2 linked regions of the Homo sapiens genome follow. The protein of the gene in region 2 purifies or fractionates together with the protein of the main gene of each other region. This does not show direct contact. Each region holds a gene or a part of one and is shown on either strand. Other genes may lie near its edges.

The links. Proteins that work in one complex are often made in the same cells at the same time.
Region 1: the proteins of ESRRA (region 2) and WDR36 fractionate together in Homo sapiens (co-fractionation; one large-scale study listed by BioGRID). This does not show direct contact.

Annotation. Positions count from the first base shown.
Region 1 is NC_000005.10:111,109,348-111,112,847, reverse strand, and holds part of WDR36 (WD repeat-containing protein 36), read right to left. Parts: intron 2,660-3,500; coding exon 2,545-2,659; intron 2,061-2,544; coding exon 1,895-2,060; intron 1,679-1,894; coding exon 1,570-1,678; intron 1-1,569. UniProt on the Homo sapiens protein: Part of the small subunit (SSU) processome, first precursor of the small eukaryotic ribosomal subunit.
Region 2 is NC_000011.10:64,308,524-64,312,023, forward strand, and holds part of ESRRA (steroid hormone receptor ERR1), read left to right. Parts: intron 1-3,500. UniProt on the Homo sapiens protein: Binds to an ERR-alpha response element (ERRE) containing a single consensus half-site, 5'-TNAAGGTCA-3'. Can bind to the medium-chain acyl coenzyme A dehydrogenase (MCAD) response element NRRE-1 and may act as an important regulator of MCAD promoter.

The sequences.
Region 1 (3,500 bases), on a different chromosome or scaffold from region 2:
TCTGGATAAAGATTAGACTTTTAAATGAATTATTAAAAGTTAAAAAAGTGTACTGCATTAATTTTCAAATCACAATCTTCTATTTATTTATAGACAATGTTTATGTGTGTGATAAGGGCTTACTTTTCTTGAAGCTTAAGTTAAAAATCTTTTCTCTTTTAATAATGCTTTATTTCTAAACAAACTATAATAATCAGATTTTCAAAATAAATTTAAATAAACTACTTATGCCACCCATTATTTTTTCTAGCTATGAAAATGGATAAATAATAGATCTCTCTGCCTGTAGTACCTAAGGGTTGTGAGGCACAAACCAGATCACAGGTGAAAGATGACCCAAAAGGAAAAACTTTAAAGTTTACAGTTGTAGTAGACTGTTCATCCATCAGTTTAAATTAGTAGATGATACTGGGATACGTAAATGTTGATTTGTTCCTCAGGCTGCAGTAATACAATGGGAACTCAAATCTCAAGTTATAGATAGATCAATTTACAGAAGGGTGGTACAGATAGTAAAGGATGGGAAAGAATGATTCTGAGAGGTAAAGTCATGTTATAAATGCTCACAGATTTGACTAACCGGAATAACTTATTACTGAGCAGGGAAACTCGAGATATACAAGTTGAAAGTAAGGTTTGAAAAAGAAATAGGAAGAGCAACTTGACACTGACAGATGTTTTCAAAAGTGCCATTTCAGCACAATTAACCCAATCCCACCCTCATTTCTACAGATGCTGTCAAAACAAATTCTGCTGATGTATAATTTTGCCAGCCTCCTATCTGCAGAACACAATGTCCTGACCATGTTTTTTTTCTTCAATTTTGAAGGAAAGGAGTAAATTCTGATTTTTGGTGTGAGAACTAGTAAATGCAGCTGTTGGGTTCGTCACTAAGTATTAAGATTTTATTTTTATTTTACTTTTTCTATTTTCAAGCAAATCAAGGTATCTGCAATTGATGAAAGATGATAATATACACTTAATATGGTCCTCAAGTGACAAATTTATTTTAAAAGTTCTTTTTAATGAAATATGCTATTTAAACTAGTTTACTTCTTTCCATATCATATATCCCATTATAAGAACATAATAGTAAACTTAAGCACATTTTTATTAATTAAACCCTTTCAGAGTTAAGATATGTAAACTCTAGAAATAGCACTAAACTAAAATAAACCAGATACCAGATATTCCAGGGAAATGGTCTTCTACTATTAATTCATTCCATACATAGTAAATCAGAAATGAGTTCTCCCAGCCTATTTTAATATTAAGTTAAGAATGACATATATACCAATGGATCATTCATTCTCTAAAGTATACTTTGGCCTTGTTTAGAGTTAATGAAAAAAAAGATGAGTTCTAAAACTTATACTTTAATTTGATCGCATCAACTCCCTGAAAAATATTAAACTTTTAATTCAAAATTTTCCTTTAAAATCTTTGAAAAATAGCCTGCAAATTAAAATTGATAACCACCTCATATAATGATTTTAAGGCTATTAAAGGATAACACACCCAAACAAAAGTAGAAATGAGTCAAGTTTTATTAGTTAGAGTTTGTTTTACCATGTCATTTATTTGGCCTTGGTGTCCAGAAAACTCTCTGACAATCTTCCTAGTTTCTATGTCCAGAACACTAATGGAGAAGTCATCCAAGGCGAGTCCCAGAATGCCACTAGCAAGATAAATGCACCAGTTTTAATAAACAAAAAACCCTTGAACTAAAATCTCACCTCCACTTGAATTTTGTTAAATCAAGTACACTTTGGGGGAAATTAAGCCAAATGTTGTTCTTTATTAAAGAGTCTGATTTTTCCCACTTGGTAAATTGTGACTTTATGACTTTTACCAAAAGAATCAAAGAGAAAATCCATTATCATTAAAAGTTTACCTGTCCCTATGTAGCAACATGATATTTGGAGATGAACTGAGGCTCACAGAATGGATTAAAATTTTGTTTTTAAAGTTCCAGAATTTGAGTAATCCTTCACTACCAGTTGTAACTGTCAACTGGTTTAATCCATCCACTGCGACACCTCTAACAGATCCCTTGTGAGCTGTAAGGTAGATGTCAAAAGAAAAAAAAAATCAGAATTGGCAGTGTTTCTCTCTGAACAATACACACAGTGATTCCTTCATTCAAATATGTAAGGTGCCACTTAAATATCCTTTAAAATCTTGAAATTAATCTGGATTTTAGGGGTGTAAGAAGATTCTTAATTATTAATACTGTTCGAGTAAAAAAACAGAAATCAGATCGATACAACATAGGTTTGAAAAGTTTGTTAAGATTTTCTGCTTAAAGGAGAGAAGAAAAAAAATTAATCTGTATAATATCCACGTAACTCTTTAAGTACCCATGACTTTTCTCTTTCAACATGGTCCTTATGATACAATTGCAGTATCTGCCATATAGGGTTGATTATAACCCATCTTCAACTTTAGCAAAATGCCCAGCACTTAAAGATTATACATACCAGCTTTCACTACTAGTTTTGTATCTATCTACATTAATAAAAAACAAGGAAAAAAATTCTCTACCTTGATCCTTGCCAAAACTTCCTCGATGTATGCCAGACTGCATGTTATATACATCTACAGTTCCTGATGAGAGGCCAATTACAGCAAAGTTTCCACAAGAAGTTATATCCACTGCCTTTAAGAAAAAAAACCCACAAATGACAAAATAACTAACATTTTTATTGCACTTTATGCTTTCCAAAGCATTTTTTTATCTACTTGTTCCTTTTTATTTAACAAAAGAACAATAAATGAATTGCTTCATTAGTTTTTTTAACATAAAGTAATTATATTTGGGTGTATAAGAATATATGCTAGATTCTATCTCCATTCTTTAAAAAGTATGAAGAATTACTATCTAAGAAAACAAAACATAACTAAGGTTAACTCAATTTAAATGTACAAAGTCAAGAGAACTATATATGGGACTAGCCTTCAATTTTTAATTTATTAACAAAGCCAAAGTTAAAACATTCCATCGCCTAATTTCTTTTTGTCTTGCCTTTTGTAACTGCTTCCACAGCTGACATAAAACCAAAAACATACCATTAGTTAGAATGGCCAAGCAAAAGCCCAAAATATTTTAATTATGACATATTAGGAAGGAAATATATAAGACACTACAGAGAAAACATTTGGTTTATAAGCAGGTTCTATAATATAATCTCATTTTAATACTTAAAATATCAATATTATGTCAATATATTTTTTCTATACTGAAAACATGAGACTGGCTACATATTTGGTCACTGCTGGAGAAATAACTGATTGCCAATGTGTGTCAGTCAGATGTCATCCACCAAGAGATAATTCAATTTACATCTAAACAGATGACTTATACAAACTAAGTAGAAAGTATTTAATGAAGGTTTATTTAACTAAGCAAAGCAACATAAAGTTTGACATACCACTTTGTCACGACATATTTACATTGCATCACATAAATATGTTTTACATACATACATTTTTCTAGATAA
Region 2 (3,500 bases):
AAAAAAAAAAAAAAAGGCCGGGCACTGTGGCTCATGTAATCCCAGCACTTTGGGAGGCCGAGGCGGGCGGATCATGAGGTCAGGAGATTGAGAACATCCTGGCTAACACGGTGAAACACTGTCTCTACTAAAAATACAAAAAATTAGCTGGGCATGGTGGCGGGCGCCTGTAATCCCAGCTACTTGGGAGGCTGAGGCAGGAGAATGGCGTGAACCCAGGAGGCGGAGGTTGCAGTGAGCCAAGATCACGCCACTGCACTCCAGCCTGGGCGACAGAGTGAGACTCCGTCTCAAAAAAAAAAAAAAAAAGGCTGGGCGCGGTGGCTCATGCCTGTAATCCCAGCACTTTGGGAGGCCGAGACGGGCGGATCACCTGAGGTCAGGAGTTTGAGACCAGCCTGACCAATGTGATGAAACCCCGTCTCTACTGAAAATACAAAAATTAGCCAAGCATGGTGGCATGCGCCTGTCATCCCACTCAAGAGGCTGAGACAGGAGAATTGCTTGAACCTGGGAGGCAGAGGTTGCAATGAGCCCAGATCGCGCCATTGCACTCTAGCCTGCGCAACAAAAGTGAAACTCCACCTCAAAAAACAAAAACAAAAACAAAAACAAAAAAACCCAAAAACGCTGGGCTTGGTGGCTCATGGCCTGTAATCCCAGCACTTTGGGAGGCTGAGGCAGACGGATCACGAGGTCAGGAGTTCGAGACCAGCCTGGCCAACATGGTAAAACCCCGTCTCTACTAAAAATACAAAAATTAGCCGGGCGTGGTGGTGAGTGCCTGTAATCCCACTACTTGGGAGGCTGAGGCAGGAGAATTGCTTGAACCCGGGAGGCAGAGGTTGCAGTGAGCTGAGATCATGCCACAGCACTCTAGTCTGGGCAACAGAATGAGACACTCTCATCTCAAAAAAAAAAAAAAAAGGACTTACAGGCATGTCTGCTCTTAAAAGTCACTAATTTTTTTCTCACTCAGGAAAGCTTATCAGAATTTGGGGGAATGAGCAAGATGCTGACATTAAGCATTGCCTGGGAAGGGCCTATTATTTCCGTTATTTCTGCTTTTATGTAACCATTGGTTACTTTGGGGGCTATAACACGTATAATTAAAAAAAAAAAAAAAAAGGCCAAGTGTGGTGGCTCACACCTGTAATCTCAGCACTTTCGGAGGCTAAGATGGGAGGATCACAAGGTCAGGAGTTCGAGACCAGCCTGGCCAACATGGTGAAACCCTGTCTGTACTAGAAATACAAAAATTAGCCAGGTGTCGTGGTGGGTGCCTGTAGTCCCAGCTACTCAGGAGGCTGAGGCAGGAGAATTGCTGGAACCCAGGAGGCAGAGGTTGGAGTTAGCCAAGATCGTGCCACTGCACTCCCAGCCTGGGTGACAGAGTGAGAGTTCGTATCAAAAAAAAAAAAAAAAAAAAAATCTTGAGTGCTTACCTTGTGCTAGGCACTGTATTCTTTTATGATCTCAGTTAGTCCCCACAGCAACCCTATAAGGTGTCAGTACTGTTATAACTGAAACTAAGAGAGGCATTTGAAACTTTGTTGAAGTCTCACAACTAGGAAATGGCAGAACCAAGATTTGAACTTGGGTCAGTATAGGTCCAGAGCTGAGCTCTTCAATGTTAGACTGCTTCCTCTGCTTATTACTAATAACACCGAACTTTGGACAGACGCTGAATGACTGATTGTGACATTCCAGCACGTTTTTTTTTTTTTTTTTGAGACAGTCTCGTGTGGTCGCCCAGGCTGGAGTGCAGTGGCACGATCTCGGCTCACTGCAAGCTCCGCCTCCCGGGTTCACACCATTCTCCTGCCTCAGCCTCCTGAGTAGCTGGGACTACAGGTGCCCGCCACCACGCCTGGCTAATTTTTTGTACTTTTAGTAGAGACGGGGTTTCAGCGTGTTAGCCAAGATGGTCTTGATTTCCTGACCTCGAGATCCACCTGCCTTGGACTCCCAAAGTGCTGGGATTACAGGCGTGAGCCACTGCTCCTGGCCAGGTTTTTTTTTTTTTTTTTTTTTTTTTTGAGATGGAGTTTTGCTCTTGTTGTCCAGGCTGGAGTGCAACGGCCTGCAGTCGTGGTTCACTGCAACCTCTGCCTCCCGGGTTCAAGCCATTCACCTGCCTCAGCCTCCCAAGTAGCTGGGATTACAGGCGCCTGCCACCATGCCCGGCTAATTTTTGTGTTTTTAGTAGGGATGGGGTTTCACCATGTTGGCCAGGCTGGCCTCAAACTCCTGACCTCAGGCGATCTGCCCTCCTCGGGCTTCCAAAGTGCTGGGATTATAGGTGTGAGCCACTGCACCCCGCCAATCCAGCAAGTTTTAACTTGGCCAAAATCCACCAATCTTAAACTTTGTGCACCCTTCCCACTCTGAAGAACAGTGAGCCAGCCGGCCAGGGTGCGGGTATCTCCTACCTACCCTGGGGCCCCTCACTGTATGTTGACTATTGACAAATATTTATTGTGTGCTGGCTGTGAATAGGACTTGTATATTGAGCACTTAGGTGTCATGAACCATGCTGGATGTTTTGACCATATTATCCCCTTTAATTCTCACGACCCAACTCTGTGGGGCACTTTTACAGCTGGGAAACTGAGGGTTCAAGGGGTTAGGTATGGGACTTGCCCAAGGTCATAAAGGTATGTGGTAGCCAGAGTCCCTGTTCGGCACAGACCTGTTCTTTGCTGTCCTGGCCAGTGTTCCAGGCCTTGGGGACATAGCTGGGGCTGAAGCAGGGCTGTTTCTGCCCTCAGGCAGTTTACATCCTGGCAGAGGGGAGAGCTGGGCAACAGTGAGTTGCACAGACTTGTCTTATTACCGCTGTGGTATGTGCAGGAAGGGGAGGTGCTGGTTCTGAGGCTCCAGAGGGCTTGTCTTTTTTTTTTTTTTTTTGAGACGGAGTCTCGCTTTGTTGCCCAGGCTAGAGTCCAGTGGCGCGATCTCGGCTCAGTGCAAGCTCCGCCTCCCGGGTTCAAGCGATTCTCCTGCCTCAGCCTCCCCAATAGCTGGGATTACAGGCGCATGGCACCACGCACGGCTAATTTTGGTATTTTTAGTAGAGACTGGGTTTCACCATGTTAGCCAGGATGGTCTCGATCTCCTGACCTCGTGATCCACCCGCCTCGGCCTCCCAAAGTGCTGGGATTACGCTCCCGGCCTCTTTTTTTTTTTAGACAGAGTCTCACTCTGTTGCCAGGCTATAGTACAGTGGCACGATCTCAGCTTACTGCAACCTCCGCCTCCCAGGTTCAAGCGATTGTTCTCCCTCAGCCTCCCGAGTAGCTGGGACTACAGGCACACGCCCAGCTAATTTTTGTATTTTTAGTAGAGACAGGGTTTCACCGTGTTGGTCAGGCTGGTCTCAAACTCCTCACCTCGTGATCTGCCTGCCTCGGCCTCCCAAAGTGCTGGGATTATAGGCGTGAGCCACTGCGCCTGGCCTTTTTTTTTTTTTGGTACAGAGTTTCGCTCTGGTTGCCCAG